Homo sapiens: one gene and its partners. The protein of the gene in region 7 purifies or fractionates together with the protein of the main gene of each other region. This does not show direct contact. Each region holds a gene or a part of one and is shown on either strand. Other genes may lie near its edges. The genes, in order: PTS, ZDHHC9, PLAA, STEAP3, HIP1R, FLVCR1 and TEX29.

Region 1 (2,523 bases), on a different chromosome or scaffold from region 7:
GGATTTAGTCACGAGGAAAAGATCCCAGAGAAGAATGCCAAGCATATAGTAAGTTTAATAATCAGAACAAAATGGGATCAATTAGGAAAAACTATATACAGGAAATATTTTATATGGTAGTTGATCCTTTTTATGCTGACTATTTTTTAGAGTTTAAAATATGATTATTCTGCAGTCTTCTGAGTTGAAATTATTCAAGTGCCCATCAGGTTCAGAAATTCAGAGGAGTATACTGAATAATTTACTGATATTCCATGATATGTTTAATGTGTTGTTCCTCACTAGCAATTCATAGTTCAATACGCTGTGCAAAATTGTAATGAATGATGTGCTCTAAAGCAGCATTTCCATCAATATTTGTACGTGTATCCACAACAGATGCCTCACATGATTTGTGTGTCTAATTTTCACTGAATCCACTTATGCCTTCAGCACACCCAACAAGTAGTAATCAAGAGAGTTCAATCTATTAAATATACATATATATATTGTCTCCAGACTTTGTGGTCACTTGAATTTTATTTCTTTAAGATTCACCTACTCGAAGTCACATAAGCATTTTAACCATGTATATTATACCAAGTAAAAATTAATACTAAAATGAGGTAATGGAGAAAACAAAATTAGATTTCTTTTGCTTTCAAATAATCCCACACCAAAACATTTTGTGAAAATGAAGTGATTTTTAATTTATAAATAAAAGACTCTCTAAATGATTTTCAGGATGTATATTACAAGTTTAGTTTTAAATAGACTTAAATTTATAACAGGTCTTACAATGATTTCAATAAATAGGCACTCCAGAGCACAATGTGTACGTACAACAATCACGTGTTGACCTCTTAATATTCCAAGGGGATCAAAATCTTTTTCAAACACAGAAAGAAACTGGGCTTTGTGCAATGCTAACCCCAATAGCTATTCTCCTTTATAAACCACAATATTATTGTCAGTTTCGTATACTTTTACTTTATAAAGAACTCCTACAGGAAGAACTTTCTGGAGGTTGTCCCAGATATAAACAGCTACATTTTCAGTCGTGCTATAAGAAAAAAAAACAAAAACAAAAAAAATTCAAAATGCAAACAATAAAATTTCATGTTTAATATTTACAGAAAATAGAAATTCTAGTTTCGAAAGATTTCATTAAATTAAAACTTCAGAAATCACACAACAATCAAAGTATTCAAATCAATTCTTGTTTTACAATCCACATAAGGCAAGATACAGTGCCACCCACCTCACCACATCTGCAAAGTATGGCACATCCATATCCAGATTCTTATGATCAAGGGGCTGCATAATCGCCTCCTAGAGACAAAACCAAGGGAAAATATCATTGACTCCATTTACGACTCAAATTCCAAATTGTTCCACTTATGCCTCTAAACCTCACCTTATCACTTAGCCACTAACTAAATATTTGTAAGTACTAGATTTGAGTCTTACAAGGCAACTTTACAAAATTTCAAGTTGTAAAATAAAGTCAGGCCCAGCTGTCGGTAATGATTAGGAATCCTTGTTACTGAATAAAAAGAGGTGAGAAACCAAAAAGCAGAGAATTCCTGGAGCTTTCTCGCAACACAAGCCATTGTAATTCAGAATTCAGTTTAACACTTTGTGAATCCTGTCCAAACAGTTAGCACAAATATTTTTCCATAACACTGTCACACCTACGGAACAATGCCACAATATCATAAGGACAAAGATCCAGTGACTACTACATTTTATAAAGCAGACCTAGACTGAAATTATGTAAGTAGTTCTAAATTTTTGCTATGAGGAATAATTTAAGAATGATCTTGGGCTCATAGAAGGAAAAATATATATATGTAAAGACTATTACTCCCTAATGCTCGTGTATATTAACATAATGTTTTTCCTCATCATCAGCAAGGATTAAATTGCCTCATTCTTTCTAGGTTTTTGCTTTTAGCTATTGCAAAAAATCTAAGCATCTGTGAAAAAAAAATGTAATTTTCCATAGGACGTAGTTTGAAGAAGGGTACATTAATAACAGTAACAGCAATCATTTCTTGAGAAAAACTAGAATCATACAAAAAGAGTAAGTCCTAGATCAAACAGTTATTGAAATATATCCAATGAAGGGATGTTCCACATGAATAACAAGAAAACGGGCATCCTTGCTTCATCTTCAATCCCAGTTCCAGTCCCAATTTCTCCATTAAAGCCTCTTATGCAGGGCTTTTTGTTTTCTTTTGTTTTGTTTTTAGAGACAGGGTCTCTGTCATCCAGGCTGGAGTGCAAGTGGCATAATCATAGCTCACTGCAGCCTTGAACTCCTGGACTCAAGCAATCCTCCCCCCACGGTAGAGCTCTAACTTTACTCTACATGCCATGATAAGCCACTTTTACTGATGAAAGTGTGTGGTGTCCTTCAGGCATACAAAAGCAGAAAACAGCATAGAGAAGCCCTCCTCCAGTATTTAGTCATATGTTGAGGCCTTTTATGTTGCTGTCTTGTCTCTTTTCTTTCTTTTCTTTTCTTTTCTCTTTTTCTTT
Region 2 (3,099 bases), on a different chromosome or scaffold from region 7:
GTGAGCTGGGCTTGCATCCTTTAAAACAAATGATATTCAGAGTTGTAGCCTTTGACACTGTTTCTAAAGCCTATCACCAAGAACAGCAAGAGATTCCTAGAATGTATTCTCCAAACTGACACAAATGCTTTTTGAATTACTGGGAACATGACTCTTCTTTAGTAGCACCAAGGCATGAGAACGAATTATCATTTTTTTAAAACCATTTACTGTGCTCCCTTGGTGATTTCCCCTGGCCTGGCCCCAACTCAGGAGTATAAAATGAACTGAGCTGGAAGAAAAGGACTAACAGGGCCAGGCCATGGGGAGAGGGGAGGGGGCTGGGTTGCTAGGTTACTACTAGAGCCAATCCAAGTGGTCCCAGAGGGGTACCAGATACAGGACAGGTCCTTCTCTCTGCCCCCACTAAGTTGAGGGCCCTCTCAGAGGAAGGGGGTCAAAAGGTGGGGGAGGGAGTCCAATCACTCACACTAGGCACAAGTAAAGAAATGAGGCAGAAGCACAAAGAAACAGACAGCCCTGTATTTCTAAAACCATTCAAGGCTCCTTCATTAATTGGCTTCCCCCCAAAAGAAAGATTTCTTTATTAAGAAATACCAGAGAGTGAAAAACCCCCAACACATACACATTTGTAGGCTCACACAAAAGTGCAGAGATTTACATATTAAATTGCATTTAAATTAGAAAATAGATTTAAAAACAAAATACTTTTTTTCTCCAACAAAGTAAAGAGATTTGGTCAGTAGGAACGGGTGCTTTATGGGTAAAGGCAGGATGGTCAGGACAGGGAGAATGGAATTTAGCTGCTACGGAATCAGAATCCACCTCTAACCCAACCTCACTCCTGGGGTAAAAGCAAAGGAGGAGATGATGATCTCAGCTAGGGCCAGGAAGGCCTCAGAGCTGAATGGACATGAAGAAATGGCTCACCACAGCCAATTTCCACCTGCCCCCAGAGGTTTGGGATCAGTGCCAACCATCCTGGCCTGGGAAAGTAGGGTGCATAGGAAGCTTGAGGAAGAAGGAGGAAGGGGAGAGTTGGAGACAGTGTCAGCCATTGAAAAGACCAAACAATTTAAGGCCCTTTTCCCCTGGGAACATTGATTCTTTAATCTCCCCTCTGATCAGATAGGGACAGTCCCAGCTGGTGCATGGTATGAATGGGACAGATCTTCAGGCCAACATCTTAAACATGGAAGATTTATTAAGGAAAAGAAAGAGGGCAGGGAGTATGAAAAAGCAGAAAATCATTTCACACTAGAGATAAGAGATTTCCACTTTGACCCTTCCCATCAGAAAGAGAAAGCTTCTCTGTCTGACCTAAGGGTCCTCAGGAGAACACTTGAGGTAAGGTGAGGGAGGAGAGAGAGCCATCTGAGCCCAGGAGAGGAGATGGGCTGAGTACTTATTAAAATGGGGTTCATATGAGTGCCAAGTTACCTGGGGAAACCTAACAACTTACAAATTCTCCAGGTTTGGCTTTATAACTTCAAGAAAAAAAACTGAGAGAACCAGAAAAAGAAGCAGACAGGAGAGGGATCTGAGTCAGTCTCTCCCCATCTCTCTTCCAATCTCTCTCTCTCTCTCTCTCTCAAGAATGCTCAACTTAAATCCTGTTAAAAGGAAAAAGGAAGACATGGAAAAAGGTCTGGGAGCAGCCAAATTTCATTAATTCCAATTAACTGGGAAGTATGAGATGGGAATTGATAGGGAGTCTTGATTATACACCACCTAGAAAGAAATATATACCATCACTTGTAAAAGACCACTGATCAAATATTTCCAAGGGGGGGCCCTGATGAGCCTGCGTTAATAACTAAGACTTATTAGCAATTAACGGCATCCATCTGCTTCAAAACAATATCCTAATATAGAGCTTGTTCTCTTAAGTAAATATAATCCCTCTACCTTCCTGATCCTGTTCACACTATATCTCCTTGAAAGTCCTTTCTTCATAGTCCAGAATAAGAAAACCTTCAGCCCAGAATGTAGTATAGATCAATGGAGAGTTTGGAACTACCTCTCCAACCCAAGGGTGCCCTGGTTAATGGAAGTTTGGGGAGTAACAAGCAACCCCTTCCAACCCCCACCCCCACCCTACACACAAACATATTCTTGAAATGGAAGGGGGAAGGAGGAGGCAGGAAGTTTGCATTAGACACAGTTTAATCGCCTTCAAATAGATGAAAAGTTCTGGTTTACACTCCCCCACCGCATAAGTCATCCAGACAGGACCCTGGCTTAGAAAGAGGAAAACACAGGTGCTCTAGGAAATATAGCCACATATAATACATAAATCTTCTTCCCTGAAATAGAGCAGGTCCTGAGCAGAGCTGACTGGGGGCCACAGCCCACCCCCAGGGTGAAGTGGCTCTGGGACTCTGCCGGTGGAAGTGCTGGAAGAGCGGGGCTTGGAGGAAGCCCCCAGTGTGGTTACCATAGCCAGAGGTGGGCCGAGGCCTTAGGGTGAGTTACCCGAGAGGGCAGCAGTGCTGGGCTTTCCCTCACTCAGCCGAGGCTTAATGGAAGAACTGGTTAGCATTTTTTTTTTTTTGAGGGTACATCGGGGGAGAGGAGAGGAGAGGAGAGCCTCTCTGTGCCTTGGTTTCCCATTTGTGCATTCAGGGCCTCTGCAGGCCTCACACAGGGAGTCTGAGGGGATAGTGTTTAAGTGAGCACTCAGGCTTCCTCTGAGGAAAAGAAATGACCAAAGTGCAGACTTTTATTACTGCCATTCCTGCTCCTAATGGGAGCAGGAGTCAAAAGGAAAAACAAATTAAAAGGGGCTAATGAGAAAGGAGGAGAGATGAGACAGAGAGTGTGAAGGGCTATGCCGCTGGCATCTCATAAATTCTTATTGAGAATGGCACAGGTATTAAAAAAGTTTCTGGGTAGTCTACGAGAAATGTCAATTATTATCTCTACTACAACTACTTACATATATCTAATGGGAAAAGAGTGGGGCTTAGGTGTCAGAGTGGATGGGAGACAAAGGAGAAGCTACACTAATAAATACAACAAGTGGAAGGTACCTGTCCCATTCCTAAAAGGATTTGTGGGCAATGCTGGCACTTGGTGGCCAGGAGAATCTTCTGACCC
Region 3 (3,500 bases), on a different chromosome or scaffold from region 7:
ATATATGGAAAAAATTAGAAAGTGAAAGTGCATGCCCAGGGAAAAGCACAGGCTCAGAAAAGACTGAGAAGACTAAGTTTACATCTTAGCCCGATATTTGAAACAAAGACACCCTTCAACAACAACAACAACAAAAAGATAATACACAAAAACATAACAAAAAACAGCAAACCCTGGAAAAGGGGAAGAATATGATTTCTAGAGTTATATTATTAGATTAAATGTTCACTTTCAACCACAACAAAAAAATCACACGCATACAAATAAACAGAAAAGTATGGCCCATTCAAAGGAAAAATTAAGTCAATAGACACTGTCCCTGAAAAAGACCTGGCAGCAGATCTACTAGACAGAGACTTTAAAACAACTGTTTTAAACATGCTCAAAGAACTAAAGGAAGATGGAGAAAGTCAAGAAAATTATGCATGAAGAAAACTGAAGTATCAGTAAAGAGGCAGAAAACCTATAAAGAAACCAAAAAGAAATTATGAAGATGAAAGGTATGATAACTGAAATGAAATTATTCACTAGACAACTTGAAGACAGATTCAAGCAAGAAGAAATAATTAGCAAACTTGAACATAGGACAGTAGAAATTATCAGGTTTGAAGAACACAAAAAAAGACTGAAAAAAAAAAAAATGAACAGAGCCTAAGGGACTTGTGGAACAACATGAGGTAGGCCAGCATACAGATTGTGGCAGTCCTAGAGAGAGGGGAAAGGGAGCAGAGAGAATATCTGAAGAAATAATGGCTGGAAACATCCCAAATTTGATGAAAGACATGAATATAAACATCCAAAGAAACTCAACAAACTCCAAGAAGATAAATTCAAAGAGACCCACACCAAGTCACATTATATTCAAACTTAAGAAAGGGAGATACAAAGAATCTTGAAAGCAGTAAGAAAGAAGTAACTTATCACATACAAGGGATCCTCAATAATATAATTAGTAGATTTCTCATCAAAAACTTTGGAGGTCAAACTGAGTGCAGTAGCACACACCTGTAGTCCCAGCACCTCAGGAGACTGAGATAGGAGAACCGCTTGAGCCCAGAAGTTGGAGGCTGCAGAGTGCTGCGACCACACTCAAGAACAGCCACTGCATTCCAGCCTGGTCAACATAGCGAAACCCCATCTTGAAAAATTTTTTTGGAGCATTAGCTAGGTGTGATAGTACACACCTGTAGTCCCAGTTACTTGGGAGGCTAAGGCGAGAGGATCCCTTGAGCCTGGGAGTTTGAGACTTAAGTGAGCTATGACTGTACCACTGTATGCCCGCCTGGGCCAAAAGAGTAAGACACCATTTCTTAAAAAAAAAAAAAAAAAAAAAAATGGTGAGGGAGTTTGCTGCCATGAGACCTCCCTGTAAGAAATGCTTAAAGGAGCCTTCTCGCACAGTGAAATGAAAACACACTAGACAGACTTGAAGCAATATGAAGAAATAAAGATCTCAATAATGGTAAATACGATAGTGGTTTATAACTCTACCTTTTGATTTCTATGTCATTTAAGAAACATTACATTAAAAAAATTAGCCTAAAAGCTAATGATATTGTAACTTTGGTTTGTAACTCCAAATTTTTCCTACATAATTTCAGAAATTAAGGCATTTAAAGTAATTATTACTTTATGTTTTTAGGACACAGAGTACATACAGATGTAATTCTGTGACACCAACAACCAAAAGGGGTGAAGATGGAGCTATAAAGAAGAATTTTTGTTTGTTATTGAAGTTAAATGTATACATTCAAATTAGAGGATTACAACTTTAGGATATTAAATATAATCCTCATGGTAAACACACACAAAAATAGAATATACACTAAGGAAATGGGGAAGGAATTTAAACATAAATAAACTAGGCCGGGCGCCGTGGCTCACGCCTGTAATCCCAGCACTTTGGGAGGCTGAGGCCGGCGGATCACAAGGTCAGGAGATCGGGACTATCCTGGCTAACACGGTGAAACCCCATCTCTACTAAAAATACAAAAAATTAGCCAGGTGTGGTGGCAGGGGCCTGTAGTCCCAGCTACTCGGGAGGCTGAGGCAGGAGAATGGCGTGAACCCAAGAGGTGGAGCTTGCAGTGAGCCGAGATTGCGCCACTGCACTCCAGCCTGGGCCACAGACTGAAACTCCGTCTCAAAAAAAGATAAAAATAAAATAAATAAATAAACAAACATATAAATAAATAAATCAACTAAACACAAAAGAAGACAGTAATGCAGGAGATGAGAGACCAAAAAAAAAAAAAAAAAAAACCAAACAAACTTTAAGGCATATAGAAAACAGACAGCAAAATGGCATCGGTGATTACTTTCAATGTAAATGAATTAAATTCTCCAATCAAAAGACAAAGATTGGCAGAAACCATTTTAAAAAACATAATCCAGCTCGGTGCTGTTTATGAGACTCACTTTAGATCCAAAGACACAAATATACTGAAAGTGATAGGATGAAACAGGATATTCCATGAAAACAGCAAACAAAAGAAAGCAGGAGCAGCTATATTAACATTAGACAAAATTGACCTTAAATCAAAAAAAGAAAACAAGAGACAAAGAAGGATATTATATATTAATAAAAAGTTCGGTACAGGAAGAAGATATAACAATTATAAACATTTATGCACATAATATATAAAACAAAAACTGACATAATTGAAGTGATATATAGATAGTTCTACAATAATAGTTGAAGACTTCAATATCTCAATCTCAATAATGGATAGAATAATCAGACAGAAAACATGTAAGGAAAAAGAGGACTTAACAAAATAAATCAACTAGAACTAACAGACATACAGAATATACTACGTGAAAGCAAAGACACCTGCTACAGAAAAAAGTATGGAAATTCCTAGAAAAATTAAAAATAAAATTACCATATGACTCAGCAATTCCATTTCTGGATATATTCCCAATGGAAATGAAAGCAGGATCTTAAAGAGATATGTGTATAACCATATTCATAGTAGCATTATTCACAATAGCTCAAATGTGGCATCAACCTAAGTGTCCATCAATGGATGAATAAACAAAATGTGGTATAAACATGAAATTTTATTCAGCCTTAAAAAGGAGGGAAATTCTGACATATGCTACAACATGGAAGAACCTTGAGGACATTGTGCTAAACGAAATAAGCCAGTTATAAAAACACAAATACTGTATGATCCCACTTATATGTGGAACTTAGAGCTGTCAAAATCATACAGACATAAAGTAGAATCGTGGTTGCCAGGGTCTGGGGGTGGAGACAATGAGTTATTGCTTAAACAGGTACAGTTTCAGTGTAAAGAGATAAAAAGAGTTAAAAGATGGATGGTGGTGATGGTTACACATTATGAATATACTTAATACCATTGAACTGTACAGTTTAAAATGGTTAAGATGGCAAATTTTATGTTTTGTGTATTGTATCACAATAAAAAAACTGGAGGAAAAGAATTAACAGCACTATATACCTCCAGAGGTGAGGACAAAGAGGCAGGAACTAA
Region 4 (3,500 bases), on a different chromosome or scaffold from region 7:
ACTCAGGGCTGTAAGGAAATCTTGGAGGAGTTTCTTGTGCCTAGACTAATGTGCTCCCTTGACCCAAGGGCCTAGTGGGCAGTTGGGGTGGTGAGTGGCCATGTGGGGACCCTGTGGTGAGGTGCCCATGGGCTGGCAGCAGAAGCCACACATCAAGCCTGAGCCACCCAGGAGTCCCTGCTGTTTGGGGCTGAAGGCAGAACAGCCTCAGGTGCCCAGGCCCAGAACCGCGGGCATGGCTTACCATGGACCATCCAGAATCTGCTTGGATGTGCCCAGGCTTGGGCACCTCCCCGTATCTGGGCTGCTGTGTGTCAAGCCCCTGCCTCCCTCCGACCACCCACCCCGACATAACCACATCAGCCCTGGTTTTGCCCTTAAGAACTCTGCAGAACAAGTTTAAGCCCCTTTGCATGAGAGGCCTTCGGTGTCTCTGACTGATCTCGTCCTGCGGGAGGGATGGTTGCCTGGCAACCTCACCAGGGCCTGCAGCCCTAAAGATTTTTGGGACACGGGGAAAATTACCTTGCATGCGCCCCTCTGTGCCCTGGTATTTGCATCAGGGCAGAATTGGGTTAACAGAATATCAGGGAGAGCCTTGGCAGGGCAGAGAATTTAGACAAAGGCAGTTGAAGGGTGGCAGGGGAGGGAGGGAGCAGTGGTGTGTCTTTTACCCTGGGGGGTAGTGGGCACCGTCCCCGTCTTTCCCACTGCTGCTGGAAATACCTGCCAGCTCAGGGGAGAGGGAGTGGGCTCCTCCATGCAGATCTGCCCCGTCCTGGGCAGCAACATTGTACTAGTCCCCAGGGAGCCCCGCAGAGCCTCCTGCCAAGGGGCTGGTGCTTTGTAGAAGTCAGTAAGAAAATATCGTCAAAGAGCATTGAAAACATTAGCACTAGGAGAGAGCTTGATCTACACATCAGGGCCTCGAGGACAAAAGAGGGGCTGTGACTTGCTCAAGGTCAAGATCTTTGTTCCAGTCAGCGATGCTGGAGAGCAGGAGTCCAGCCTCTAGCCTTCAGGCCTCCACACCGCCCCACACCAGCTGAGGCGAGGAGCCAGATGGTCTGTGTCTTTCTTACTCCTTTCTGTGGCCCCAGGGCCTGGCAGAGTAGGTGCTCAGTGAATGAGTGAATGAATGACCTAGTTCTGAAATCATTTACTCAATTGTGAATTTGGTTTGCCTGTAGAAAGCAGCGTGGGTATAAGCATGGATCTGGAAAATAGCTGGATCTGAATCCCAGCTGTGCTACTTACTGACTGTGTGACTTTGGCCAAGTTACTTGACCCCTCTGTGCCTCAGATTTCTCATCTATGAAATAAGGATATAATAGCACCTGGCCTACAGGGATGAGATGGGGTTAAATGAATTCACAGTGGTGTACGAAGCTCTTAGAATGGTTCCTGGAACACAGCGAGCTCTTGTTAAGGGTTCATGACTGATTTCTTCCCTTCCTCTCATTTCCATCAAGCATCTTGCTTTTCTGCCTGAAGTCTGGGGTTCTTCCTTTGTCTTAGGAAATTCTGAGCCCACAGATGCAATGATGCCGGTATCTGTGGGTGGCAAAGGACGAGGGCAGTCGAGTAGCTGCTGGCAGAGAAGCAGCAACCCTGACAGTGAGTAGGGGCTGAGGTCTGTGGTTCTCAGGAGGTGCCCAGCCCTGCTTCCCAGTCCTGCCAATCCCCCATGCTCGGAGGGGATGGCCCTGTGCTAGGTGTTTAGGGGAGGGCCCAGCCTCACCAAGGTCCCTGCATTCTGAGCAGGAGCAGGAGCTGCAGGGGCTGCCAGGCTGGAATGAGGGGTGGATGAGAAGTGTCTCACCAGCACCTGGGCTGAACCCTGTTGGGTGACTAGCGTCCTGGAGTGGGCAGGACCTATGCATCAACCAGCCCCGGGGCTGGGCACTGGAGGTGGAATTAATTTGGAGAAAATAAAGACAGTGTTGCTGAAGATGTGAGCTTGGGACTAAGAATCAAGCCCCATGAGCTTGTGGACCAGGAGGGAGCATCAGGGGCCTGTTTCTGTGGGCACAGGTGCCAGCTGATGCCTGGGTCCCCACCTGGTGTGGCCTGAAGGTCCTCCACTTCCCAGGAACCCTGCTGGCAACCAAGCCCCATATGAATTTTCTAAATGAATGATTAGTGCCACCCCCAGTAAAACAAACAAAGAACAACAACAACAACAACAAACCTAAACCTGGAATGCTCACTCCTGCAGCCTTCCCCATCTCAGCTGATGGCAACTCTCTCTTTCAGGTGCTCAGACCCAAACCCCAGAGTCATCCCTGATCACCCACAAAACCCTGGGGCCATTCCAGCGGCAATTCCATGCACTCCAGCTTCACATGTGCCTTCAGGATCTCCTTGCTCCTCCACTGCTCCCACTGCCTCCAGCCTCCACTGCCTCAAATCTGGGCATATGCACGGCTTCCTCGCTGGCCCCAGCAGCTAGCTGCCTTTGACCTCCTACAGTCTGTTCTCAGCCAAAAACCAGAGAGAACCACTTAAAATGTCAGGCCGATCAACACCTAAATTCAAACCTTCACCAGCTCCCTATTTCACTCGGAGCCTAAGGCTGAAGCTCTTCCTCTCAGGCCTCGCCTGCCACCCCCTCCTTGTTCAGCTTTAGCCACATGGGCCTCCTGGCTGCTCCTCCAACGTACCAGGCACACTTCTGCCCAAGGACTATGCCCCGTGGCCTGCAACATCACCCCAGCAGGCCACCGGCCCCTCTCCCCTCCTTCCAGCTCTGCTCACATAGCACTCACTCTGCAAGTCCTCCTGGACCATCTTCAAACCTGCACCCCCACCGCCCACGCTTGCTTTCCTTTGCGCCTTAGCACTCCTGATCCTCTCAACGCCCACTATGACTCACTGCTGTATTTTGTTTAAGTCTGCCCCAACTGGGCTGTACCCATGGGGGCAGGAATTTTCATCTGCTTTGTTCACTGATACTCAAAATCTTGGGCAGGAGGATGTGGGTGCTGCCCCATTGGAACAGAATCTGCAGTTGGCACCTGGTAAGGCTGCACCCGTGGGTATCGGCTGCACCTGGTTGGTGGGGGGGGGAGGTGCTGGACAAGCATGTGCTGAGTTGCCAGAGGGAGGAAGGGCATGGGGTGGGTACCTGCTTGACTGCCAGGTTGACCAGGTCGTAGCGGTGGGCGCGGCGCAGCGGCAAGCAGAAGCTGTAGAGGGCGTGCAGGGCGGCGCAGAAGAAGCTGAGCAGCCCGATCTGCTTGCGGTGCTGTAGCCAGTGGTCCAGCCAGTCGGGGAAGCGCTGGTACTTGGTGCCGCGCCGCAGCTGCAGGGCAGCCGCCAGCACGCCGGGCAAGTACACGAGTGACAGCAGCACGTAGGCCACGCACGGCAGTGTGGTGTTGACCACGGACACGGGCAGCTTGAAGAACTTGTTCTGGCTTTCCTGCACATAGGGCTGCAGAACGTCCCGGACGAAGTTGTAGGCATAGAAGCAGACGAAGAGCCCCAGGGCCAGCAGG
Region 5 (3,500 bases), on a different chromosome or scaffold from region 7:
GGTAACTGGCTCCTACCTGGTGGGCTCTGTGCTGAGAGGCTCAGGCTCAGCACATCTCTGCCAGGACACAGAGCCTGGTAGCCCTGTCCTGCTGCACAGTTGGGGCCACACCTTTGGACACCTGCCCTCTGCTCTCCATGTCAGATCCTGAGCAGGCTCTTCCCAGGCACAAGGGTCCAACTCTGAGCCCACCTCCCACCCACTGGAACTGAATACCCATCAGGCTCGCCCAGCTGCACTGGCCAGACCTGGGGACTCAGGGAGGCTGCCCAAACTGCCTCTAACTCCCAATTTTCCCTTAAGGAGGCATTTGCTTCTTGCCCTCTTATGGAGAGCACTGAGTCACCCATGAGTTGTTTTGAAGCTGCCACCCAGAACAATCAGTTCTCCAGCCTGGAAGCTGAGCCCTCTGAGATTTCCTGTCCAACAGCGGCCGGGTTCCCTCGCTAGGAAGTCTGACGTGACTCAGAGGCTTTCTAGAGCAGAAAATGGCAGGACGACCCAAACCTTTCTTCCAGCTGGGCTCTGCAGATGGCCCAAGGCTGGGGCAGGAACCTGGCAAGGTGGCTCCTGTGCACACCTCCTCACCCTCCCTGTCTTGGGGCTGATGGAGTGACACTCACTGGATGGAAGAGATGGCTGAACCTGTATCCTGGATGTACCCGCTGGGGCCTGCCATGCTTTGGAGGGGCCAGGAGGCCCCATTACCTATCCCTGGAGGTGCAGGGACCCCAGGAGGGGCAGGGGCATTTCTTTTTCTTTTTTTTTTTTTTAAGACGGAGACTCACTCTGTTGCCCAGGCTGGAGTGTAGCGGCATGATCTCCGCCGCCCAGGTTCAAGTGATTCTCCTGCCTCAGCCTCCCAAGTAGCTGGGAATACAGGCGTGCGCCACCACGCCTGGCTAATTTTTATATTTTTTTAGTAGAGACAGGGTTTCACCATGTTGGCCAGGCTGGTCTTGAACCCCTGACCTCAAGCAATCTGCCTGCCTCGGCCTCCCAAAATGCTGGGATTACAGATGTGAGCCACTGCGGCTGGCCAGGGTCATTTCATAGTGATCAGTTGGTCTGATCACTCATGTCTTCTTTTTTCTTCTCGTCCCATCTCTGGGGACTTAGCAATACACTCAGACCCCCGCATCCCCTCTTTACGGCTCACCTGATTCAGAAAGCTTCAGCTCACAATCCATGTAATCAAACATCTCCACAGTGAGCTGGAAGCTACGCAAGAGAAGTGGGGGAAGAAATGAAAAAGGGTGGGTGGACCCACCCACTCGTCCTGAGACGCCCCCTCCAGTGGGGACGGGGGCACCGCCGACACCATGGCTCTGGTGAGACAGCGTGCCTCTGCCAGGACGACAGTCCTTCAAGTACACCCCACCCTTTTAACTTCACCCTCTGTCCCTGGGAGCGTGAGCATCAACCAACAAAGCCACGGACTCATTCAACCCCACTGCCCCATGCGGACGCCTGGGCGTGAGACGCGGTAGGAAGGAATGGGGAAGCCGAGGGGAACTGGCTATGTAGCCATGCAGAGTGACTCACATGTTGTTGACATCGGTCCCAGCTGCCTTCTCCAGTACCTCATCTGTCACCTCCAGGCCCGCGGGAAACTGGGGATGCTGTGGAGAGAACCCCCACCCAGCGGCCACTGAACCAGGGCCCCCCCACACCTGGCGGCCACCGAACCAGGGCTCCCCCCCACCCAGCGGCCACTGAACCAGGGCCCCCCACACCCAGCGGCCACCGAACCAGGGCCCCCCAACCCAGCGGCCACCGAACCAGGGGGCCCCCCCACCCAGCGGCCACCGAACCAGGGCCCCCCCCACCCAGTGGCCACCGAACCAGGGCCCCCCCCACCCAGCGGCCACCGAACCAGGGCCCCCCCACCCAGCAGCCACCGAACCAGGGGGCCCCCCCACCCAGCGGCCACCGAACCAGGGCCCCCCCCACCCAGCGGCCACCGAACCAGGGCCCCCCCCACCCAGCGGCCACCGAACCAGGGCCCCCCCACCCAGCAGCCACCGAACCAGGGGGCCCCCCAACCCAGCGGCCACCGAACCAGGGCCCCCCCCACCCAGCGGCCACTGAACCAGGGCCCCCCCAACCCAGCGGCCACTGAACCAGGGGGCCCCACGCTGGACCCTGCTCTTGGCAGACCCAGGCTGTGGCCCACATAGGTGGCAGAGGGCAGTGGAGGGGTTGGGAGGAGGGGAGCACCCGGCCAGCACAGCAGAGACTGAGGAAGCCCAGCGCTCATGTCCACAGAAACGCCTGGGGAAGCCCGTGCCCACGTCCACGGAAATGCCTGAAGTGTTCTAGGAGCTTCGTGATGCCCTGGCTTCCCCGTCTCCCCTTTAGTCATAGTTGGGACAAGAAGGTGAATGGAAAGACTCATGGAGAGGACAGATCCCACCCTCGATGTCCCAACATGTGCCATAACGTCACAGTGGGAAAAGCCCACGGGTCCCTCAGCCCCATGACTCCCCCGAGGAAACCACCTTGAGGTGGAAGGAGATCTTGGTCAGCAGCAGCTTGGTGTAGACATTCACCAGCTGTCCGTAGCGGTCATGCAAATGTCCCTGTGTGAAGACAGACAGGGTGAGGGGCCACGGCTCGTGAACACGTCCAAGAGTCCTCAAGGACCTGGGCACGAGAGTGACCCACCACCGGGCACTTCTTCATTCAACAAACGTCTTCTCCTGGCCTCCACCAACCACCCTCTCTGTCTCTAGCTTTTTCCCTTAATCTTCCTCCTTGTCATTCCTGCCAAAGAAACTCTTGTGAGAAGAGAGCTCTTTGTCCAGGGCGGCAGGCCAGTTCTGAGCAGGGACGCTTTATTAAAGTGCTGGTGCTGGCAGGGAGGCACGTCCCGACGGGCGCCTGGACACATCCTCCCTGCTCCCTCCTCCAGCCCCACGGCCCCTGCGGCCGGGCCAGCTGGGCCTGCATCTGCAGGTGGCACCATGGGCAGTGTTTTCCTCGCTTCAAGGGAAGTGAGTCCGGGCAGTGGTTCTGGGTTGGATAACGCCCTGGTCAGGCCTCCCTGTGGGTACCCGGTCCAGGGCCTGCCCTGCTCCTATGTCCCTGCCCAGGCAGACGAGCACCCCACAGTGCTCCAGAGAGAACCAGGCCAAGGCCCTCTGCCCACCAGGGACATCTCTAACTCCTGAGGTCTTGCAGTGCATCCAGATTGCAGGCCCCCCAGGGCTCTCAGGCCTTACTGTGTGTGTGCTCAAAATGCAGACCTCCAGTCCTGATTCTTCAGCAGCAGGTCTGGGGGAGCCCAGGAACCTGCGCCCTGCCACAGGCTCTCTAACCACCGAGGTGCCCGGGCTGTGGTCTTGCCACATTTCCCAACTCGTGAGGACTAAAGGGCCCGGGTGACTTCGACGCTGGAGGGCCCACTGGTTATGCGTGTGGAGCGCCCTGGGCCAGGCCCTCAAAGGCAGGCAGCATCTCCCCGTGCTGCCCCTCCCACTGTCGCCCCTGGGAAAACC
Region 6 (3,500 bases), on a different chromosome or scaffold from region 7:
CAAACGCCCTAATTTACCTGTTAATATGATGCCTATAAACATCCAGACACAGAGAAAAATGTTCCCTGCCTTAGGACCATAGTCTGATGTGAGCTTTCCTTGAGCCAATGTGAACAAAATTCCAAATATCTAAAATACAATAAGAAAAATCATTCGTTATTAAGTTAAATTATTTAAAGCAAGTATAAAGTTTTCACCAGAACTTTTCTTATTTTGGTTATATGATTTGGTTTCTAGAAACATTCATTGAAAAGTTGAATTGTTAAAACAAAAACCACGGTCAGGCTGGGTGCAGTGGCTCACACCCACTGTAATCCTAGCACTTTGGGAGTTGAGGTAGGCGAATTGCTTGAGCCCAGGAGTCCGAGACCAGCCTGGACAACATGGCAAAACACCATCTCTACAAAAAATAACAAAAAAAATTTAGCTGGGCATGCTGGTGTGCACCTGCAGTCCCAAAAACTCTGGAGGCAGAGGGGGGAGGATTGCTTGAGCCTAGGAGTTTGAGGCTATAGTTAGCCATGACTGCACTACTGCACTCCAGCTTGGATGGCTGAGCAAGACTCTGTCTCCAAAAAACAAAACAACAACAACAACAAATAAAACCATGGTCAAACTCATTACTCACTAGAATATCTGGTATAATAATCATCTCAGGTTTAGAGAAATCAGAGGTTTACCTGTGCAGAAGCATTAAGAAGACCAGATGAAGTACCTTCAGATTCAGGGTAAGTGATTTCAACAGCAAATTCAAAACCCAAAGGGAGGTAACCAGTCATGAAGAAGCTAGGAAAATAAATCCAGAATTACAGAAAGAACTACCAGAAAGTCACAATCACATACTGATGCAATCATTCTGCCTCTCGGGCTTATTCTAATGACCAAATAAGTGAATATTTTGAAGTTGCTATGTCAAAGTAAGGAACTATTATCATTGACCAATCAGCTCAAGGTTACAGAACTGGAAGCAACAAATACACATTTTTTTCTGAGAAAAATTTACTTCTAGTTTTATAAGTTGATTGTAACCAAATAAAGTTACACAGATTAAGTAAGGCTCATCCATTTTTTACCTATGGTATACCAAAAACCAATTTTAAATAATTTTTAATAGTTCTTAAGAATTACATGTTTATATGCATAGAATGAATCCTTTAAAGTTTAAAATATTGAAGAAACTTTGGATGAACTGAAAAAATTAAAGACCAGAGTAATAATACTTCAGAATTATAACAGCATGCTATCATTCCTCCTAAACACATCTGATACTTACCCAAGCACCCCTCCAGTAACAAACACGATGATAATATATCTAAGGTCCAATGTGAAAGTAAAGATAACCATTCCAATAAAAGACAAAATATAAACTATCAGAGTAGTCTGTCTAAAACAAAAACAACAAAGCTGTTAGTATTTTGTCTGATTCTCCTAGGAATACAAAAATCATCACTCTTACCTGTTCAGTAATGAATCTTTGTTTTTCAAAGTTCACCCCTTCTTGTCCATGGAAATATGTATCCACCAAAGCACAAATTTTAAAGCATTTTTAATTTAAGATTCAGCAGCACCAGAAAACCACACCATATCGAATGCTCAGATAGGATCCTTTTATAGGAATAAAATCATTTTTATGCCACCAAATGGGATAGTTCCCTATTCACATTTCAAGATTCAGATCAAATTCTACCTCTTCCAAATGCCTTCTGTAACGACACCAGTTTATAAGAGTCTCTCTTTCTTCCAAATTCCCTTATCATACTGGCACTATAAAACTTATGACATCTATTTTAGTTTGTTATATTATTTAACTTTTCACATGTGAATGCCTTATTTGCTCCATTTAGACCACAAACATCTTAAGAACAGGGATCACATAATGCCAGCCATAATTTTCATCTAAGAAAGATGCACACAACAGGAGTTTGGTGAATGAATGGCAGTTACCCTGAGAAGGAAGCCACAGTGGCAAAGAACACACATCTATGCCTATCAAGTTTTCTAAATGTATAACGGATGAAAGACTTAAGAAATATAATCCTTTACATATGCTCCCTTCATCTATATATCAAGTAGGTTTCACTCTAAGCTATCATTTTAAAATAATGAAGCTAAGGCAAGTGCTGTCTTAAATTATGGAAGAATATGGAGAATTTCAAGATTAGAGATACTTTTGGTAGCGTTTAGACTAATAATATCAAATATATCTTGAGCCTTGAAAGGTACACGGGACACAGTTCCATATTTCATTCATTTATTCCTTAATAGTTTCATTCATTCATTTCCAAGTACAGGGGTAAGTTTTGGCATGTTACAAAATGTGGTGATTCTTTTCACTCCCAGAGCAAAATATGCTGCCTCTGAAACCCCTTTCTTAGTCTCCCAGTTGGTATCATTCATTTTCTTTGGTATTAGCCTTTTGGTGGTTCCATATAATGTACAATTAACAGAGTATATTCTTTTTTTTTTATTTTTTTAGACAGCGTCTTGCTCTGTCACCCAGGCTGGAGACCAGTGGCACGCTATCTCAGCTCGCTGCAACCTCTGCCTCCTGGGTTCAAGCAATTCTCCTTCCTTAGCCTCCTGAGTAGCTGGGATTACAGGTGCCCACCACCACACTTGACTATTTTTTGTATTTTCAGTAGAGATGGCGTTTCACCATGTTGCCCAAGCTGGTCTCGAACTCCTGGCCTCAAGCAATCTACCCGCCTTGGCCTCCCAAAATGCTGGGATTACAGGCATAAGACATTGTGTCAAACCAGCATTTTCACATTATGCATTATATTACAGTTAAGTGGTACTGTAGTCTGGGCGTACTTTAGCCAAAAAGTTCTTACCAAAATAAAGCCTTATGCTCAACAATAATTTTTTGATTGGAAAGAACTACTTTTTTGTTTTTGTATTTAAGCCCACAACATAAAAAAAGAACAACATAGGCCAGGTGCAGTGGCTCATGCCTGTAATCCCAGCACTTTGGGAGGCTGAGGTGGGCAGATTGCCTGACCTCAGGAGTTCAAAATCAGCCTGGGCAACATGGTGAAACACTGTCTCTATCAAAAAGTCAAAAAATTAGCCGGGTGTGGTGGCGCACACCTGTGGTCACAGCTACTCAGGAGGCTGAGGTGGGAGAATCACTTGAGCCTGGAAAGCAGAAGTTGCAGTGAGCCAAGATGGTGCCACTGCACTCCAGCCTGGGTGACAGAGTGAGACCCCACCTAAAAAAAAAAAAAAAAAAGAACAAGATAAAGTCTATCAAAAGTCAAATATTTCTCAGAAATGGCTCTTTTTAGAATAGAAATAATTCCTTCGGAAGTGGTAGGTATGAGTACTGTTAGAAAGAAGGGGCTCATAAGGTATCCAAGTTCTCAGAATTGAAATAAATGTGACCAATAAAATAATACAATACATAGAGTATTGAAACACTTGTTGCTGGGCGCGGTGGCTCACGCCTGTAATCCCAGCACTTTGGGAGGTCGAGGCGGGTGGATCACAAGGTCAGGAGA
Region 7 (3,500 bases):
AGCATCTGTCGGCCACTCTGGGACTGAGCGCACTGCCTTGCATGAGGGGCTCTCAGGCAGCTACGGCCTATGCTTTGGGGCCTCTCAGATCCAGATCCAGACGCTGCTCCTCCCTCGCAGCACGGCTGAGTCCTAGCAAAGCCAAATGCCAGAGTCTTGAACCGCCTGTGTCTGTGTGGCAGCCCACTCTTGGTGAAAGTGCAGCCTGCCTTCTGAAAAGAAGACCTCGAGGACACCACCTTGAGCCCATGCTGTGAGCCCCCATAGTGTTAATATTAGTGACAAGCAGTGCCATTAAAAACTGAAAGTTCAGGTTCCCACTCTCCTACCCCACAGGCTTTCTCTCTCCTAAGATAAAAATATAGCAATGAATAAGCAACATCGGACGAGAAGCAATTTTCAAAATACCTTTATTTTTTTCTCTTTGGGTGGTCATTCCATCACACTGTTAACAGTGCACCTGCTGTACCATTTCATTTGGATAATTCTGACAATCTCCACTTCTTCATGCGTCTCAGTCAGTCCTCAGTTTCTTCGGCTTCTGTTATTGTCCCTGTTACTAGATTTTTAGAAAAGAAGAATTGTTTTTTCAAATGGAATATTCAGCAGTCCCGAAAAGATTTCATCAGGATCTTTGAACCCATCTACATGGTGTCTGATTGGCAATGATTGATTCAAAAGCCAGTTTTGGGGATGGCCGTATCCTCCTATGTTTCTCATTGCATTCTAGGGGACAGTAAAACACTCTTCCTCCCACATCATCTCTCTACACAGGAGGCTCCCTTAACCAGGCAAACATCTGTCCTGCAGGAAAGCCTCATTTGCACAGACGCAGCCTCAGTTAGGGGCCAGGCATTCCAGATCTGAAATCAAGTGTGGGTTGCCCTCTTACCCTGCCTCCTGATTTTCCTGATGGTCCCTGTAAAGCCAAGTCTATTTGGTAACAATGGGTAAGGCCAGGCCGTTTGTATCCTGTACAAACATCTCTGAAGATAAGGATTACCATTTGAGATGTTTCTTTCTCTAACCTGGCAAGGTGCTGATCTAGGAAAAGCAACCGGCAACCTCCAAGGGCCCCCAAAGCAGGTAAACCAACATATGAGAAACTTTCCTTCCTGGAAACCGAAGCAGGCATAGAGTGATCGTCCACCTCTCCAACCACGACCACCACGTGGCCAGGGCACCACAAAGAGTACCCACAGCAGCCCTGCAGCCTCCCCGCACATCCACGACCACCAGGCGGCCAGGGCACCACAGAGAATACCCACAGCAGCCTGGCAGCCTCCCTGCACAACCAAGACCACCACGTGGCCAGGGTGCCACAGAGAGTACCCATGGCAGCCCTGCAGCCTCCCCACAGGAAGTCACCTGATCAAATGTGCAGTTTCTGCAGGACTCTTGCCCCCTCCCCAGGAGCTTCCCACACTAACAATGAGGGCCCCGCCAGAGGGTGAAATGACAGGGAGGCAAAAGGGGATGGGAAGGGGGAGGACAAGACTCACAGAAGGAAACTCACACTGACAGCCACATCCACCCTGCAAACCTGAACCTCCAATGTTGGGTACATTACAATTTTGAACAAACTGCAACACTGATCACTGAGGTTGAAGGGCCTGTGTAGATGTTGAGCCCCTTCCCAGGGAAGGTCTCCCGAGGGAACAGAGCCACGCCCTTGACCTTAGGCTGAGGATCATTCCAGAAGCTTCTCACCATCATCCTTATCCTCGTCACTCTTCATCGAGGGCCCAGCACTTGGAGGCCCAGGACTCGCAGGCTTCAGCCCTAACTTGCTGCTGGATGAGGCCAACTCCGCCTTTTCGCTGGACTTCTGTGGCAGCGCGACATCCACAGGGATGGCCTTTTCTTTCCTGCTCTCCTGAATGACTCTGATGGGAAGAGGGTTTTATCACAGTCAGGGAAGTTACAGATGGAAAACTCTCCAGTTCCTCCCTCCCACCCACCAGGACATCCCTCTGAAAACACAGGTTCCTGATCATGCATACTTATTTTTTAAGGTAAATGCTTTGATGTAATAGTTCTCATTTTCGTTTCTTTCTCTCTCTCTTTTTTTTTTTTTTTTTTTTGAGACAGTTTTGATCTGTCATCCAGGCTGGAGTGCAATGGCACAAACACGGCTCACTGCAGCCTCCAACTCCCGGGCTCAAGTAATCCTCCCACCTCAGCCTCCCAAAGTGCTGGGAGATTACAAGTATGAGCCACCACATCCAGCCTCATTTTAGTTTCTTGTGCAGGCTCCAAACAGATGGCTGTATGAGGCAGCTAGACTCCCAAAGACAGCTCCGGGCAGGGGGAAGGTGTGTGTTGCACTGCAGGCTACTGCCGGCTCATCTTCATGATTAACACACATAAGACAGCATACAGCACCACTCATGGTAGGAAAATGGCTTTACTCATTCCTGGACAAAGAGACTCAAATAATCTCAGGGGCTTGTATGCACACAGAGTGGGCTCATGGTGAAGGTGGTGGCCGGGGAGTGAGATGCTGGATTCCAGCCCTGCCCTGGGAATAGCCACCTGCTTCCTTGGCCCCCCGGGTCTGCATTTCCTCACCATTAAAATGAGAGGGAGTGGACTCATCTCTGAGACACCTCCAAACCCTGACACCCTGCAATGAGGACGCAGGCCACAGGCCAAGAGATGCAGGCAGCCTTGGGTTCAGGGACTCTGAGACAACTGGGAGCCTGAGTTAGAGCCTCACTGCCCCATCCATCAGCCTCGGGACCCCCTCGATGCTGCGTCAATCATCCCAGTCCGGGGACAGTAAGTTCACTTACATCGTCAGTGGCTTCAAGGGCTGAAAAGGCTGAGCAGAGCTCTTAAGAGTCTTAGGTGCTCACTAAACACGGGTTATGATGTTCATCAACAAGCACAGGTGCTCACTAAACACGGGTTATGATTTTCATCAACAAGCACAGGTGCTCACTAAACACGGGTTATGATTTTCATCAACAAGCACAGGTGCTCACTAAACACGGGTTATGATTTTCATCAACAAGCACAGGTGCTCACTAAACACGGGTTATGATTTTCATCAACAAGCACAGGTGCTCACTAAACACGGGTTATGATTTTCATCAACAAGCACAGGTGCTCACTAAACACGGGTTATGATTTTCATCAACAAGCACAGGTGCTCACTAAACACGGGTTATGATTTTCATCAACAAGCACAGGTGCTCACTAAACACGGGTTATGATTTTCATCAACAAGCACAGGTGCTCACTAAACACGGGTTATGATTTTCATCAACAAGCACAGGTGCTCACTAAACATGGGTTATGATGTTCATCAACAAGCACAGGTGCTCACTAAACACGGGTTATGATGTTCATCAACAAGCACAGGTGCTCACTAAACACGGGTTATGATGTTCATCAACAAGCACAGGTGCTCACTAAACACGGGTTATGATGTTCATCAACAAGCACAGGTGCTCACTAAACACGGGTTATGATTTTCATCAACAAGCACAGGTGCT

Evidence for each region.
Region 1: the proteins of TEX29 (region 7) and PTS purify together in Homo sapiens (affinity purification with mass spectrometry; 3 studies listed by BioGRID and IntAct, with this or other methods). This does not show direct contact.
Region 2: the proteins of TEX29 (region 7) and ZDHHC9 purify together in Homo sapiens (affinity purification with mass spectrometry, with the first as the bait; one large-scale study listed by BioGRID). This does not show direct contact.
Region 3: the proteins of TEX29 (region 7) and PLAA purify together in Homo sapiens (affinity purification with mass spectrometry, with the first as the bait; one large-scale study listed by BioGRID). This does not show direct contact.
Region 4: the proteins of TEX29 (region 7) and STEAP3 purify together in Homo sapiens (affinity purification with mass spectrometry; 3 studies listed by BioGRID and IntAct, with this or other methods). This does not show direct contact.
Region 5: the proteins of TEX29 (region 7) and HIP1R purify together in Homo sapiens (affinity purification with mass spectrometry; 3 studies listed by BioGRID and IntAct, with this or other methods). This does not show direct contact.
Region 6: the proteins of TEX29 (region 7) and FLVCR1 purify together in Homo sapiens (affinity purification with mass spectrometry; 3 studies listed by BioGRID and IntAct, with this or other methods). This does not show direct contact.

Annotation. Positions count from the first base shown.
Region 1 is NC_000011.10:112,231,951-112,234,473, reverse strand, and holds the end of PTS (6-pyruvoyl tetrahydrobiopterin synthase), read right to left. Parts: intron 1,312-2,523; coding exon 1,241-1,311; intron 1,043-1,240; coding exon 919-1,042; 3' UTR 501-918; downstream 1-500. UniProt on the Homo sapiens protein: Involved in the biosynthesis of tetrahydrobiopterin, an essential cofactor of aromatic amino acid hydroxylases. Catalyzes the transformation of 7,8-dihydroneopterin triphosphate into 6-pyruvoyl tetrahydropterin.
Region 2 is NC_000023.11:129,802,788-129,805,886, forward strand, and holds the end of ZDHHC9 (palmitoyltransferase ZDHHC9), read right to left. Parts: 3' UTR 501-3,099; downstream 1-500. UniProt on the Homo sapiens protein: Palmitoyltransferase that catalyzes the addition of palmitate onto various protein substrates, such as ADRB2, GSDMD, HRAS, NRAS and CGAS. The ZDHHC9-GOLGA7 complex is a palmitoyltransferase specific for HRAS and NRAS.
Region 3 is NC_000009.12:26,937,243-26,940,742, forward strand, and holds part of PLAA (phospholipase A-2-activating protein), read right to left. Parts: intron 1-3,500. UniProt on the Homo sapiens protein: Plays a role in protein ubiquitination, sorting and degradation through its association with VCP. Involved in ubiquitin-mediated membrane proteins trafficking to late endosomes in an ESCRT-dependent manner, and hence plays a role in synaptic vesicle recycling.
Region 4 is NC_000002.12:119,247,834-119,251,333, reverse strand, and holds part of STEAP3 (metalloreductase STEAP3), read right to left. Parts: coding exon 3,128-3,500; intron 3,021-3,127; exon of another isoform or gene 2,263-3,020; intron 1-2,262.
Region 5 is NC_000012.12:122,848,957-122,852,456, reverse strand, and holds part of HIP1R (huntingtin-interacting protein 1-related protein), read right to left. Parts: intron 2,583-3,500; coding exon 2,502-2,582; intron 1,623-2,501; coding exon 1,546-1,622; intron 1,222-1,545; coding exon 1,160-1,221; intron 1-1,159. UniProt on the Homo sapiens protein: Component of clathrin-coated pits and vesicles, that may link the endocytic machinery to the actin cytoskeleton. Binds 3-phosphoinositides (via ENTH domain).
Region 6 is NC_000001.11:212,885,775-212,889,274, reverse strand, and holds part of FLVCR1 (choline/ethanolamine transporter FLVCR1), read right to left. Parts: intron 1,385-3,500; coding exon 1,274-1,384; intron 787-1,273; coding exon 681-786; intron 130-680; coding exon 18-129; intron 1-17.
Region 7 is NC_000013.11:111,341,142-111,344,641, reverse strand, and holds the end of TEX29 (testis-expressed protein 29), read right to left. Parts: intron 1,887-3,500; coding exon 1,711-1,886; intron 560-1,710; coding exon 519-559; 3' UTR 394-518; downstream 1-393.